Linked DNA regions of Homo sapiens. The protein of the gene in region 2 interacts with the protein of the main gene of each other region in a biochemical or structural test. Each region holds a gene or a part of one and is shown on either strand. Other genes may lie near its edges.

Region 1 (3,823 bases), on a different chromosome or scaffold from region 2:
GCGTGGTGGCGGGCGCCTGTAATCCCAGTTACTCGGAAGGCTGACGCAGGAGAATGTCGTGAACCTGGGAGGCAGAGCTTGCAGTCAGCCGAGATTGCGTCACTTCACTCCAGCCTGGGCAACAGAGCCAGACTCTGTCTCAAAAAAAAAAAAAAATTAAAATGGTGTTCCATGAGAAAAACAACTACATTTAGCTTTCAAAAGTAATTACAGGTGGTTTGCCCCTTGATATCCTTTGTATTTCAGTAAGCAGAAGTTTTTGAGTATTTCCCAATACTGAATTAAAAAGAATTGTGCTGTAGTGTTGAGAAATAATACAACTAATAATTTTTGCTGCTTCATTAAGGACCCTTTTAAGTGAAAGTGGAATTTTTTATATTGTAAATGGGTGACAGTGAAGAATTCAGTGAGTGTTAGTTCAGCACCATTTGGGGTTGTTGCTTTGATTCATGCTGAGTTCCCAGCATTTTTGCACACCATTGATTTTGCACATCAGCACAGAGGTCAGAACAGTAAAGAAAAAGGGCAAAGTGTCTTAGTTTTATTGTGAAAATGGTTTTGATTTCATTGAACCCCTGGAAGAAGTGTTGGGGACTTTTAGGGGTCTTTGGGTCACACTTTGAGAACCACTAATCTAGAACAATATTTCACATTGGTTCATAGAGCCCTAAGCTGCTTCATAGGGCAGAGCTGGTGGGGTTCTACTGTACCTACTCCCTCTTCACTTCAGCCAGAGCAGCTTCTGCTTATGTCTGTTTTATATGTCGGGTTTCATGGCTAAAAAATATTTGAAAATCATTAGTCAAGGGGAAAAGAATTGAGCACCTGAATTAGGGCTGGTCTGTTCGTGAAGGGAACAGTTCATCCTCAGTAAATGTTACAGTCACTCATCACTTCACATCTTTAATTTTACTTCGTTTGACACAGAGCTTACTAGTATTTGCACACTCAACCTTCTTGATAGGTAAATGGGGCTGTGTGCCGTGGCTCACGCCTGTAATGCTAGCACTTTGGGAGGCTGAGGTGGGCGGATCACGAGGTCGGAAGATCGAGACCATCCTGGCCAACTTGGTGAAACCCCATGTCTACTAAAATACAAAAAATTAACCCGGTATAGTGGTGGGTGCCTGTAGTCCCATCTTCTCGAGAGGCTGAGGCAGGGAAATCGCTTGAACCCAGGAGGCAGAGGTTGCAGTGAGCTGAGATCATGCCACTGCACTGCACTCCAGCCTGGCAACAGAGCAAGACTGTCTCAAAAAAATAAATAAATAAAAAATAAGTAAATGGGCCTGGCACAGGGGCTCACCTATAATCCCTGCACTTTAGGAGGCCAAAGCAGGAAGATGGCTTGAGTCCAGGAGTTAGAGACCAGCCTGGGCAACATAGTGGCACATGCCTGTGGTCTCAGCTTTTTGGGAGGCTAAAGTGGGAGGATCAGTTGAACCCAGGAGGTCCAGGCTGCAGTGAGCCATGATCATGCCACTGCATTCCAGCCTGGGCAACAGAGTGAGACCTTGTCTCAAAACAAAAACCAAAAAAAAAAAAAAAAAAAAGAAATAGGTAAATGAATTTGTAAATTAAAAAGATGGATAGTTGGGAATAAAGACAGAGATGTGAGATAGATGGAAGAGGTTGAATGATCATAGTAATCTCAATATATTGTGTTTGTGCAGGGATGGGATTTGTTTTTGTTTGCAGTGGTGCTTTATGCTTGTGCTGAGTGATCAGTGGATGACACTTAAGCATTGAGAAATAAGAAATTATGGCATTCTAGCTAGCCATTGAACCAAAGTTTAGAGTGAGGGGACATTTATTATGCTTTTTAAATTATAAATACCTGTAAAATACCTGTTGAAAAATAAACAAAATGCTGCTTTTGAGGAGCTCTAGTTTGAGGCAGCTTTGTCCTCCTACCAGTCTTTTGGTGTAGGCTGTACAATCCCTATTGTTCAGATGTAGAAATTGAGGTCTGAGAGATTGAATATTATGACTTACAGTAGCAAGTGGCAGAGGAATTTTTTATTTTTTTAACTTTTTATTTTGAATTAACTTTAGATTTTAAGAGTCAATGATGGTAACTGACAGGTTTTTTTTTGGTTGTTTTTTTGAGATGGAGTTTCACTGTTGTTATCCAGGCTGGAGTGCAGTGGCACGATCTCGGCTCACTGCAATCTCTGCCTCCTGGGTTCAAGCGATTCTCCTGCCTCAGCCTCCCGAATAGCTGGGATGACAGGCATGCGTCACGACAACTGGCTAATTATGTATTTTTTAGTAGAGACGGGGTTTCTCCTTGCTTCTCAGGCTGGTCTTGAACTCCCGACCTCAGGTGATCCGCCCACTTTGGGCCTCCCAAAATGGTGCGATTACATGCGTGAGCCACCGTGCCCAGCCTTATACAGTGATTCTTAATAGTTAGGTATATATCCTTTCACTTTTAGAAATTTATTTATTTATTTATTTTTGGAGACAGAATTTCACTCTTGTCACCCAGGCTGTAGTGCAGTGGCGCAATCTGGGCTCACAGCAACCTCCACCTCCCAGGTTCAAGCAGTTCTCCTGCCTCAGCCTCCTGAGTAGCTGGGATTACAGGCATGTAGGCTAATTTTTGTATTAGTAGAGACAGGGGGTTTCACCATGTAGGCCAGGCTGGGCTCGAACTCCTGAGCTCAGGTGATCCACCAGCCTTGGCCTCCCAAAGTGTTGGGATTGCAGGTGTGAGCCACCGCGCCTAGCCGAGTGACAGTTTTAAATACAGATGTCTCACACCAAAGCTAATATACTCTTCACTCTAAAATGATTAGGGTTATGTTAAGGGGATGAAAAAAATGCTGCTCAGTGCTATTAGGAAGGAGCTTATGTAAGATGCTATGGACTATTTAAAATTAATTTACACCCAGTGAGCAAAGTCAAGACATTTTTTTTACCCAGAGCAGCAGACAGGTAAAACACTCAGGTGGCAGGTATAATAACAAATATATTGCATAACTAAAAGCAGCTGAGAGACACTAGTTTACGTAATCGGGGTTGGAAAGGAAGAGGGGAAGTAAAGTGTTTTATTTTTTTTGAGATGGACTCTGGCTCCGTCGCCAGGCTGGAGTGCAGTGGCCCGATCTCGGCTCACTGCAACCTCCGCCTCCTGGATTCAAGTGATTCTCCTGCCTCAGCCTCCCAAGTAGCTGGGACTAGAGGCACACACCACCATGCCCAGCTAATTTTTGTATTTTCAGTAGAGACGGGGTTTCACCATGTTGGCCAGGATGGTCTCGATCTCTTGACCTCGTGATCTGCCCGCCTCTGCTTCCCGGAGTGCTGGGATTACAGACATGAGCCACCGTGCCCGGCCTTTAAAGTGTTTTTATACTAATAAAGAGTTTAAGGGTGTGCGGCAGTCTTGTGAAAGCAGGTGAGGCTTGAGCAACAATTTTTAGGAAGAAAAGGAGATACGATTTTTAGAGAGGGTATGATGTTCTTTTTTTTTGTTTGAGACAGCGTCTTGCTCTGTTACCCAGGCTGGAATGATCTTGGCTCACTGCAACCTCTGCCTTCCGGGTTCGAGCGACTCTCCTGCCTCAGTCTCTCGAGTAGCTGGGATTACAGGCATGCGCCACCGCTTCTGGCTAATGTTTGTATTTTTATTAGAGACGGGGGTTTCACCCTATTGGCCAGTCTGGTCTCGAACTCCTGACCTTAGTTGATCTGCCCACCTTGGCCTTCCAAAGTGCCGGGATTACAGACCTTGAGCCACCGTGCCCGGCCTTAGAGAGGATATGATGTTCTAACCAAGGGAATGGCTTGATCAAAGATCTATCCTAGGGAGGATACT
Region 2 (3,823 bases):
TCATTTAGTTTTTAATTGATATAACAGATAGTAAATTTGATTAGTAATATATTTAGTTTATTGGATGTAGCTGAAATAAAACATTCTCTACTTTCACAGCACAGAAATACTTGAATAATTTACTGAATTCTAACATTTGTCAAGATAAGAATCTAAGGAAATATGCAGGTAGCAAAGTTTTACTGAACACCTACTGTGGAGTTAGGTAAAGGGATTAAACAATAAGAAGCTGAGATTTTTGCCCTTGAGGAGCTCAATGTAGTGGAGTAAAAAGCATGTATACCACAGAATAAAATACAAAGTTGTAATTGCTGTAATGAATAACAAGAGTGTCATGGGAAAAAATTGAAGAAAGCAATGAAATGGTCAGTTTCAGTGAGAAAGCAATGTTGGATTGAGCCAGTAATTCAGTATGATTTTCCAAAGTGGATTTCATATATTCTTTGTCATTACAAGTGAAAATTTTGGTCCTAGAAGTATGTCCTTCAAATATTAAACACCCATTTTTACAATGACGTGACTTCAGCTGTAGTGGATGCTTCATTTGTCTTTGAAATTACTGTCATCTTCTCATAATAAATCTAAATAAGCAGTCTCATCAGATCTGTATTATTTTACTAACCTTCCTGTGATTCCACTTGTGTAGTGGGCATCACTGTAGCTGTTGGGGTAGTAGTGGGATTTGTAACAGTTGCAGGTGTAACCATTGGGCGGATACTAGCCCTGGGTGTTGACTTATTTCCAGCCATAGCTGCAGCTGTCACTTTACTTGGAGTAGACACAACAGGAGTTGGCTTGATATTGGCTGTTGGTGGGTCTGATGTGCTGGCACTTATAGAGGAGAAAATGGAAGAATAATTAATAACAAATTATTATGCAAATACTTTTAAAAACACAGTGAGTATAGGTCTCCATTTTTTTGTTCACTAAATATTTCAGAGCCTTATTAAAGCTGTTTTGAATTTAAGCATTAAAAACTACACAGGGAATGCTCCAGAGTGGTGCATCCTGACAATGTAAAATGTATCTAGCTGTTGAATTGCTGAACCCAAGTCTCAGCCCAGCATTTTCTATCTGTCATCATGTAACATCACGGGGAAAATCAGTAGCAGCCTAACTTAGAAACCAACTGTAAACTAAAAGATGAGAGACGTTTTCTCTGTCACAAAGCTTCATCTGATAGGACTGAAAGTATGGTGAAAACAAGCTGGCAAATACATGATACAGTTCTGCAGAGAAAACAACTCTTTAGTGTATGTTTTTACAATAGAATACACAGATTTCTTTTTCCTAAACAGAAAGATCACTAGATATTCCCTGAGCTTTAAAAGAAAAATAACAGACTATGAAATAACTAAAACTCACATTCCTCTTTCACCAGAAGCTGGAGTTGTTTTCAATGTGATCTGTCTCTGCTGTTCAGGGACCTATAAAGAGAAAGCTCTTGATTGTTGTTCCTAGCCCACAAGAGTCCACTAAAAATGCCACAAAAAAATTGTCATTATTGTTAATTCTCTCCGCATATATTGAATTTTAGCCAAAATTCACTGACAAAGGCTCCTATATCACCAAGCACTTTCAAGTAAAATGTACAAAGAAAAACAATTTGTTACTTAAGCAGAATTAGCTAATCACCTTATTAGAAGGTTCTTGAGGCTCATCTCTCTGCTCAAGGTGTCTCTCTTGATGCTCCCTGAGTTCTCTTTCCAAGCGACTAATTCGACCTTCATATTGGGACTTTAGCGCAGTAATGCGAACATCCAATTCATCTTTCTGCTGATCTAAGGCTCCATTCCTTTGTTTAAGCTCCTCATTTTCTTTAGTTAGCTGATCTTTTACACCTAAAGAAGTAACCAGGCGATTATATTAATATTATAATCAAACATTTAAAACAGCATTTATGCACTTAATTGGCACATGGTCACATCAGATTCTACTACTATAACATCTACATTAGTTATGATACATCATACATCTCAATGAGCAAAGTTCTAAGTACATTCATGCTTTAACTTATTACTAGAATATAAAATATACTTACTCCAACATAAAAATTTACTTTTTCCTAACTAAAATCTCAAAAAGCTAAAGATCCTAGTTAACAGAAGCCCGTTTATATTTCAATGTATCATGCAATTCATTACTATGAATTGCAAAATTTTTATTTCATATAATCTACAGCACTGTTTAAAAATAATTCAAGAACTTTTAAAATCAAGTAAGTTGTTAGGACACTGTCTTAGAGATCATTTTAAAAAAATGCCTGTAACAAAATCCAACTGATTTGACATTTTATTTAACTACTCAGCAGACTGATAGGCAAGGCTGAATAAAGCCCTGAGCCTTGAAGAACTAGGTTCTTCATAAATTTGACATGATACTCTCCCTGAAAAGCTAGAGGGGTCCTCCACCAAACGAGGCACAAAAAAATCCCTGGGCTGGTAAAGATCTTTATGCAGTCTACATAAGGTTTCTAGACAGCACGGTCTGGGCTCAAAGGATCTCTGTCACAAGATAGAATTGTTATCCATGAAAGCAGAAGGATAGCAGTATTCCATTATCTACTGCCAGCCAACAATTGAGAAAAATTTCATCATATCAAGGATATCCTCATCACTTGAAAATTAGGATTGCTCTTTGTGTCCAACTAATTATTCCTAATATTTAAAGCACACATACACACACAAACACCCTTCATAAGTAGATACCTTTTATTTCTATTCCATTTAGTTTTAGGCCTGCAACACATAATCAACTTTCACTACCAAGTTCAAACTTTAAACAGATATTTACCAGCTAAGTGTGCAATTTTTGACTTTGCTGCTACAATAGCCTTTCTGGTTTTTTCTTCCTTTTCAGTTATCTGTTGTCGGAGCTGCTCCTCCTGTGTGGTTCTATCTTGAAGATCCTGACGAAGTCGTGAAAGTTCAGACTGAAGTTGCACAGTCTGTTCCTGGAGATTTCTTGCTTCTGTCTCTTTTTCAGATAATGTCTTTAAAGGAAAACAAAGTATTCACCATGGAATTCAATCATTTCAATATAAACTGTATGTGGTAGCAACTTAAAGTATAACTTATTAATTTGCTTTTTAAAAGATTAAATGGAAGTATAAGTATAAAAATGGTGGTCAGACCAACTAAATGCACACTTGAAGATGATTGGGTACTACTTACATACATGAGCCATTCAAAGTAAAAAGAATAAAATGTATCCATTCCCACATGGTAAGACAAAGTGTCAGTAGTTAACACATATTTCTTTAGGTGTATAACAGGAAAGAATTAGGAACAGACTGTTCTCACACTCATACCTTCTGCAGATTCTCTACTTGACTTTCAAGTGATTTTGATTTTGTTTCAGCTTGGTTGAGCGTTTCTTTGAGTTCCTGCATTTCCTGGACTGAAACATGCTGCTCCTGATGGTCTCCAGAGGACTGAGCCGATGTCTCCATAACCTAAGACAACAAACAGTAATAATACACTCACATATTTATATTCAGTAATTCCATTTCTGCAAGTTTGTCTAAGAAAATAATCACAGCTTTGCAAAGAAATTTTATCCCTGAAGGTATTCAAAACAGAATTTTCTATGAAACAACTGTAATCTCCAAAAATGGGGAACTAGTTATGGTTTTCCACATAACTGAATACTAAACAGCTAATCAAAATGATGCATTATAGTTGAATTTTCAACACTTAACTGTATTTTCATGATAATGAATCAAGTGAAAAAAGTATACAAAAGAATATAAGCATATAATATTATTTCTTTGGAAAAACGTCGCTTACATGTATGAAAAGGGATACTAATGTACTAATAGTGG

What was found.
Region 1: the proteins of TPR (region 2) and NUP98 form a complex in vitro, tested with the Homo sapiens proteins (one study listed by BioGRID).

What each region holds. Positions count from the first base shown.
Region 1 is NC_000011.10:3,787,232-3,791,054, reverse strand, and holds part of NUP98 (nuclear pore complex protein Nup98-Nup96 isoform 1 precursor), read left to right. Parts: intron 1-3,823. UniProt on the Homo sapiens protein: Plays a role in the nuclear pore complex (NPC) assembly and/or maintenance. NUP98 and NUP96 are involved in the bidirectional transport across the NPC. May anchor NUP153 and TPR to the NPC.
Region 2 is NC_000001.11:186,333,703-186,337,525, forward strand, and holds part of TPR (nucleoprotein TPR), read right to left. Parts: intron 3,455-3,823; coding exon 3,311-3,454; intron 2,993-3,310; coding exon 2,794-2,992; intron 1,842-2,793; coding exon 1,636-1,841; intron 1,428-1,635; coding exon 1,366-1,427; intron 832-1,365; coding exon 623-831; intron 1-622.